Linked DNA regions of Homo sapiens. The protein of the gene in region 2 interacts with the protein of the main gene of each other region in a pairwise test. Each region holds a gene or a part of one and is shown on either strand. Other genes may lie near its edges.

Region 1 (3,821 bases), on a different chromosome or scaffold from region 2:
AACCCTCCCCCACAAAAAAACAAACCTCAAAATCATTATGCTGAGCAAATTAGACAAGAGTATATCCTGTATGATGACTCTACTTATATAAAATTCTGGAAAAAGCAAACTAACACATAGAGACAGAAAGCAAATGAATGGCTGCCTGAGGACAGAGGTGGAGGGACATATTGCAGAGGGTTAGAAGAAACTCGAGATGATAAAGTGTTTGGTATCTGGACTATGGCAGTGGTTTCAAGATTGCCTACATATGTTAAAATTATAAAATTGTACATGTCAAATATGTGCAGTTTACTGGAAGTAGCCTTAATAAACTAAAAAAAAAAAAAAAAGGTTTTAAACATTTTGGCTATAAGAAAAAGGAAAAAAGTTTTACATGGCAAAATTTCCCATAAGCCAAGTCAAAAAGCCAACAAGCTAGGGTGTGGTGGTGTGCACCTGTAGTTCCAGCTACTTGGGAGGCTGAGGCAGAATGATTACTTGAGCCTAGGAATTCCAGGCTATAGTGGACTATGACTGAGTCACTGCACTTCTGCTGGAGAACAAAGCAACACTCTATCTCTTAAAAATAAAATAAGGCCCAGCGCGGTGGCTCATGCCTGTAATCCCAGCACTTTGGGAGGCCGAGGGTGGGGCAGATCACCTGAGGTCATGAGTTTGAGACCAGCCTGACCAACATGGGGAAACCCCGTCTCTACTAAAAATACAAAATTAGCCAGGTGTAGCGCACATGCCTGTAATCCCAGCTACTCAGTAGGCTGAGGCAGGAGAATCACTTGAACCAGGGAGGCGGAGATTACGGTGAGCTGAGATCACGCCATTGCACTCCAGCCTGGGCAACAAGAGCAAAACTCCGTCTCAAAAAATAAATTAAATAAATAAACAAATAGCAAATGACAAATAGAGAAAAATATTCATAATTCATGTCACAAAAGACTGATTTCATGAACATCCCACAGATCAATAAGACTAATAATTCAAATAAAAGAAAGCACAAATGACTCTTAAATTACATGACAAGATGCTCACTCATAAGAGAAATTCAAATTAGAAATACCACACTCAGGTTTCCAACAACCACAAAGCTCAAAAACATACTTTTTTTTTTTTTTTTGAGATAGGGTCTCACTGTCATCCAGGCTGGAGCGTAGTGGTGCAATCATGGTTCACTGCAGCCTCCATTCTCCGGGCTCAAGTGATCCTCCCACCTCAGCCCCCAGAGTAGCTGGACTACAGGCGTGCACCACCTTGCCCAGCTAATTTTTTTGTTTCTTTGTAGAGATGAGGTCTCGCCACGCTGCCCAGGCTGGTCTCGAACTCCTAGGCTCATGCAATCCACCCACCTCAGCATCCCAAAGTGCTGGGATTGCAGGCATGAGCCATCTTCCCTGGCCAACATACTGTTTTTGTAAAGTAAAAGACTTTACTGTTGGTAAAGATGTGGGAACATAAATAGGTTGCAATCTCTACGAGACAGCAGTCAAAATTGTGAATGCAAATACCCTTCTGACTGAGCAATGCCACTGCTAGAAGTTTATCCTACAGATAAGTTTAGCTTATGTACAAAATTACCTAAGTACAAGGTCACTCATTTACTCCAACATTATTTGTTTTGTTTTGAGAGAGCGGGTCTTGCTTGTCGCTCAGGCTACAGTGCAGTGGTGTGATCACAGTTCACTGAAGCCTCAAGCTCCTGGGCTCAAGTGATCATCTCACGTCAGCTTCCCAAGTAGCTGGGACTACAGACACGTGCCTCCATGACCAGCTAAAATATTACAGCAGGTTTTTTTTTTTTTTTTTTTTTTTTTGGAAGACAGGGTCTCACTCTATCACCCGGGCTGGAGTGCCAGGGGTGCAATCATAGCTCCACTTCCTGAGCTCAGGTGCTCCTTCGTCTGATTCCCAAGCAGCTGGGACTACAGTGCACAGCATCATGCCCAGCTAATTTTTTGTAGAGATGGGGTTTTGCCATTTTGCCCAGGGAGGTCCTGGGCTCAAGCGATCTGCCCACCTTGGCCTCTAATGGTGCTGAGATTACAGGCGTGAGCCACTGCACCCGGCCTTCAGCATTATTTGTAATGGTCATGAGACTGGGAAAAAACTTTATGTCCATCAGTGGGAGATTTGATAAAATAAATTAAGGCACACCTAGAGAATACTCTAAGAAAAAGGGCATTTTTAAAAAATGCTATAAAAATAATCACTTTCACACCAATATAAACAGATCTCCAAGTTGTACTAAGCAGAAAAAGGGAAGGTGTGGAGTAGTGCATATATTAAATACCAGTGAGTTAAACTGTTTTATGTGGGAAGAAGAACATCTATGCGTATCAGTTTTTAAATGCTAAGATGTCTCTAGAAGCTTACATAAGAAACTAAAAACACTTGCCTAGGGTAGGGAATTGGCTGACTAGAGAAAAGGTGTATAATTAAATTTTATTTATTTATTTATTTTGAGACAGAGTCTAGCTCTGTCACCAAGGCTGGAGTGCAATGGCGTGATCTGGGCTCACTGCAACCTTCATCTCCTGGGATCAAGCGATTCTCTTGCCTCAGCCTCCCAAGTAGCTGGGACTACAGGCATGTGCCACCACACCCTGCTAATTTTTCTATTTTTAGTAGGGACAGTGTTTTGCCATGTTGGCCAGGCTGGTCTCAAACTCCTGGCCTGAAGTGATCCACCTACCTCGGCCTCCCAAAGTGCTGGGATTACAGGTGTGAGCCACCACAGCCAGCCATCATTAAATTTTAAATTAAAAACAACAACAAAAAGGCAGTGGCTCATGCTCATAATCCCACTGCTTTAGAAGGCTGAGGCAGAAGGATTGCTTGAAGCCCGGGGTTCAAGACCAGCCTGAAAAACATAATGAGACTCTGTGTCTACAATAAAATAAAATAAATTAGCCAGGGTGGTGTGCACACCTGTAGTCCCAGCTACTGGGGACACTGAGATGGAAGCATCACTTGAGCCCAAAAGTTTAAGGCTACAGTGAGCCAAGATCTTGCCACTGCACTCCAGCCTGGGTGACAGAGCAAGAGCTTGTATGTTAAAAACACAAAACAAAACAAAGAAACAAAAAAACAATGAGATGGGGCTGGAGGAGAAGCTGACGGTATGGTGTGAAAATTCCAATTTTCTAACATATCCCACTAAACTCCTCAGTAGTACTTGTACATACACCTGTCAGAACCTCTGTTTCTGTTCAAATTTAGGCTCCTGGGTTTCAACTTCATACAGAAATAAAAGTATGACTCAAAAAGAAGGGTTGTATCTTACTAAGGTTTCTAGTCACCACAGCACTGAACAATGCCTGGTATCTAGGAGGATCTGCATCTTTGGTTACCTCAGCAAACACTGTGGGAATCTATATATTTATCAACTCTTAACTATACACCTGGCACTGTGATGGTTATGAGGAAAAACCGGCGAAGACCTGGTCGGCCAAATAACTCCAAATGAAGACTCAATATTGAAATGAAGTCACCAAGATGTCCAAAGGGACTGTTGCCATACAAAAGCTTGATAGAACAGGATTCCCAGAAATGTTTCTAAAGTACATTATTATATTTTATCTAATATAAAGAAATATCTGCTTATAAACTTCATCATTTCATATACCATTAAGAGAGAAAAACACCCAAGATATGAGACTAATAGGAAACCGGCATAAAGCTGAAGGTAAATGAAAAATAAGCCTTCCATATGGAAGGGCGAACAAGGAGACTTGTAGGTTTCATTCTTGACACTGAGTGGGAAACAAAAAAAATCCCCTGAGCACTGGTAACAAGCCACCACCAGTGTGGTCCAAAACCCTCAAACA
Region 2 (3,821 bases):
CCAAGGCAGGAGGATTGCTGGAGTTCAAGAGTTCAATACCAGCCTGGGCAACATGGTGAGACCTTGTCTCTACTGAAAATAAAAAATTAGCATGGTGGCCTGCCCGTAATCTCAGCTACTTGGGAGGCTGAGGTGAGAGGATCACTTCAGCTCAGGAAGACTGAGGCTGCAGTGAGCCATAATCATGCCACTGCACTCCATCCTGGGTGACAGAGTGAGACTCTGTCTTTAAAAAAAAAAAAAGAAAAGCCAATCCAATTTTGGGACAACTGCACAATGTCTCAATAGAGGATAATTAATTAATGTTGATTTTCTTGGATGTGATAAAGATTGTGGCTAGGTAGTACAATGTCCTTATTCTTAGAGATTAAGTGTCTCTAAGTCTGTGATTTCCTTTCACAAGGCTTAGGGGAAAAAGGTTTACATATCTATATCAAGTAACAATTGGTAAACTTAGGCAAGGAGGGAAAGACATTACCATACTATTCTTTCTACTTTGCTTTGGGTCTGAAATTTTTCAAAATAAAAATTTGGGAAAACAATTTTTAAAACTAGGGCATGAAAGGAGGTATAAAAAATCTAATTTGGGGAAGGGGAACCAAAAGAAAAATATGGAAAGTATGCTTTAAGACACATTCACCAATTCTGTGCAAAGCTTATTAGCGTATGCAGCTGAAAAGCTCAGACTACTCTGGGATGCACCAAACTGACCTGTGTTCACTGAACACACTTCCGCTGCCAGATGTGTTTAGGCTTTTTCAGATGAGGAGCCAGGCCTCAATTTCCGTAAGTCAATCTTTCAAATTAACTGAGAAATTAGACCTTCTTTATACTATAGCCCAACCATTTTTCCAATGAACTTTCAGACACAAGTTACAAAAAACAAAGAAGATAAAATCTATTGCTACAATGCGTTAAAATAATACTGGCACTAACCCTGCCGCAATGATCCTCTTCTATTTCTATCTCATTTCTGAATGTAGGAACCACCTCCCTGCCTTCAGTCCAGTACATCCCTCGCCTTCTGTCTGACACGATACAAGTTTTGCTTTGTCCTGGCTCCTGCTGCCTACGCCTTGCAATAGATGTGACTTTGAGAGGTGTGTTGTACGTAGGAATTTTCTGCTCCCATTCCGAAATACAGGAAGCTACAGAAATGCTGCTGCAAGAGTTAGAGCGCCTATGTAGCTGTGGCTGGCTCATGAGTTGCTGGCCGTTGGAAATCTGAGCAATATAGTTACTAGAAAGCTAGAAAAATTGGAGAAAAATTAATGAGCAAGACTGAAAAACTGAGAGAAACAATTCATTACTTTTCTATAATGTTAGCACATGAAGACTTAACATTACAAATAATTATTTGTTCTATTTTTTTGTGCTAAATTTGTGTTTATTCTAAATTTTAAAATATTTTTAGAGAAATTTCAGAAATGTAAGTATTATAAAATGTAAAAATCCTCATAGAAATAGTCATCTAATCTGAACAAAATTTCTCTAGTACAAAGTTACTACACAATTACAAATAACTTACAGGCACAGGTGATGGAGAAACAGATCTTTGAGTAACTTTTTCTCGATCTCGCTCCCGAGAGGGTCTCTCTGGCTTCTCAGTTTTAGGTTCGGTAACAATAGCCTTCAGTTGTTTCAGCTTTTCATCTTTAACCCAGAGTTTATTCTGCATCTCCAGCTGTTTGGCTGCCACTCTACGCTCCTACAGATTATCAGTGGCAATGTATATTATCATTCCATCACAGCAAACGAGTACACCAGATTACCCAATCTCTTTATTTCCTAAAAATGACAGTTCTCCAATTCTTCCTGAGAGTTAACAACCACCACCAAAACCCTACCGCAAATACAATAATTCAAAATATCGAACCTAACTACAATGTAAAATAAATCATCCGACTCTGAGACAAGCACTACCCAAACGATACTCACACATTCTTTCTCCCACTTCATTGTCGTTTCTGTCACCATGCCTTGCAACCTGGCTTCTAATCTGCGTTTGTCAGAAAACTGTCGCTGAAGTTTCTGGTTCTGAGTTTCAAGTTCCTGTTGCAAATTGCGTTTATCTTCCTCATAGATAGTAGTTGTTTTCTCTAAAATCTCAATCTAGGAAGGTAGACCACTATGTTCAATATTTGGTATATAAACATTTCATGTCGCTATAAAATAGTCTTCCTTAATTTGCTTATGCAAGCATATTTGTGGAAAGAAACATCATGGAGAAAGCACTTTTTTCTCTAACATTTCATCTGAATTCCCACCCCCATTCTCAGAAATGAAAACATGTTAAACAAGCTCCTCACCCAAAGACATTTACAACTAACTTCATGTGAAAATTACTTTCTCCTAAAATTAAGGGCTAAAATTTAGTTTTTAGGCTATTTTCAGAATTTAAAAAAACTATATTGGTTGAGACTAACTTCTCTTATGAATGTGTACCCCCACCAAACCTCTAAATGACCCTCTGTAAATGAGAGAACAGACATACATTACACAGTGCTGCAATGCTTCCCAACAAAACGGTATTTCCTTCTACCCCATTGTAAGAGATTAATCCTGAGTTTATACTTTTACAATCGATTTGTAAACCAAATACAGATCCAATTAAGCTTTACTGAGTATCTGTTACGTCCAAGGCCCGATGCTGGCACTTTTATACCATTTCATTTAATCATTTATCTCATTAAAAAAAAAAAGCATACTAAGGAAATATTTCTAATAAATTCAAAAGCAAGCTACAACCAAAGCTAAGCTCTAGAAAGCTCCCTTGTTTGGGTCAGAGAACATCCTTTTCAACTGTTAAAACTCTCATAAAATTAAAGAACATATGATTCTTCATTTCACTCACATTTCCTCCTTAGCATGGGATGAGGATTAGTAAACAACCAATTGAGAACTTTTTTTTTTTTTTTGAGACAGGCTCTCGCTCTGTCACCTAGGCTGGAGTGCAGTCGTGCAATCCCAGCTCACTGCAGCCTCAACCTCCCAGGCTCAAGCTGTTCTCCCATCTCAGCCTTCCGAGTAGCTGGGACTACAGACATGTACCACCATGCCTGGCTAATTTTTTTTGTAGATATGGGGTTTCGCCACGTTGCCCGGTCTGGTCTGGAACTCCTGGGCTCAAGTGATCTCCCTGCCTTGGCCTCCCAATGTGCTGAGACTACAGGCATGAGCCCCCGCACTCAGCCTGAGAACTCTTTTTTTTTTTGAGACAGAGTCTTGCTCTTGTCGCCCAGGCTGGAGTGCAGTGGCTCAATCTCGGCTCACTGCAACCTCCACCTCCCCAGTTCAAGCGATTCTCCTGCCTCAGCCTCCTGAGTAGCTGGGATTACAGGCACTCGCCACCACGCCCAGCTAACTTTTGTACTTTTTTAGTAGAGATGGGCTTTTGCCATGTTGGCCAGGCTCGTTCTTGAACTCCTGACCTCAGATGATCTGGCCACCTCAGCCTCCCAAAGTGTTGGAATTACCTGCATGAGCCACCGCACTCAACCGAGAACTCTTAATAAGCAGCATTTACAGGCCGTTGGAGCACAATATCTCCCTCAGAGAACAGTGCTAAAACACCAGCACATACATCTATCATAATAATGTCAAAACAAACCTTATATTCTAAAGTTTTGTTTTTCTTTTCCAGTCGTTCTATTTCCAATTTCTGTCCTGAGATCATCTTCTCCTTTTCATTTAGTTTCCCTTGCATGTGGTTTTCTTTACTTAAAACAGCATTGTCAAATTCTTGTAACAAAGCTTTAAAAGCATTAGCTGAAACAAAAACATACAGGTCAAGTTTTACACCAGTTCTAAAACAAACAATG

Evidence for each region.
Region 1: the proteins of KIF23 (region 2) and RBM34 interact in a two-hybrid assay, tested with the Homo sapiens proteins (one large-scale study listed by BioGRID).

What each region holds. Positions count from the first base shown.
Region 1 is NC_000001.11:235,144,184-235,148,004, forward strand, and holds part of RBM34 (RNA-binding protein 34), read right to left. Parts: intron 1-3,821.
Region 2 is NC_000015.10:69,438,195-69,442,015, reverse strand, and holds part of KIF23 (kinesin-like protein KIF23), read right to left. Parts: intron 3,769-3,821; coding exon 3,611-3,768; intron 2,113-3,610; coding exon 1,939-2,112; intron 1,709-1,938; coding exon 1,529-1,708; intron 1,249-1,528; coding exon 937-1,248; intron 1-936.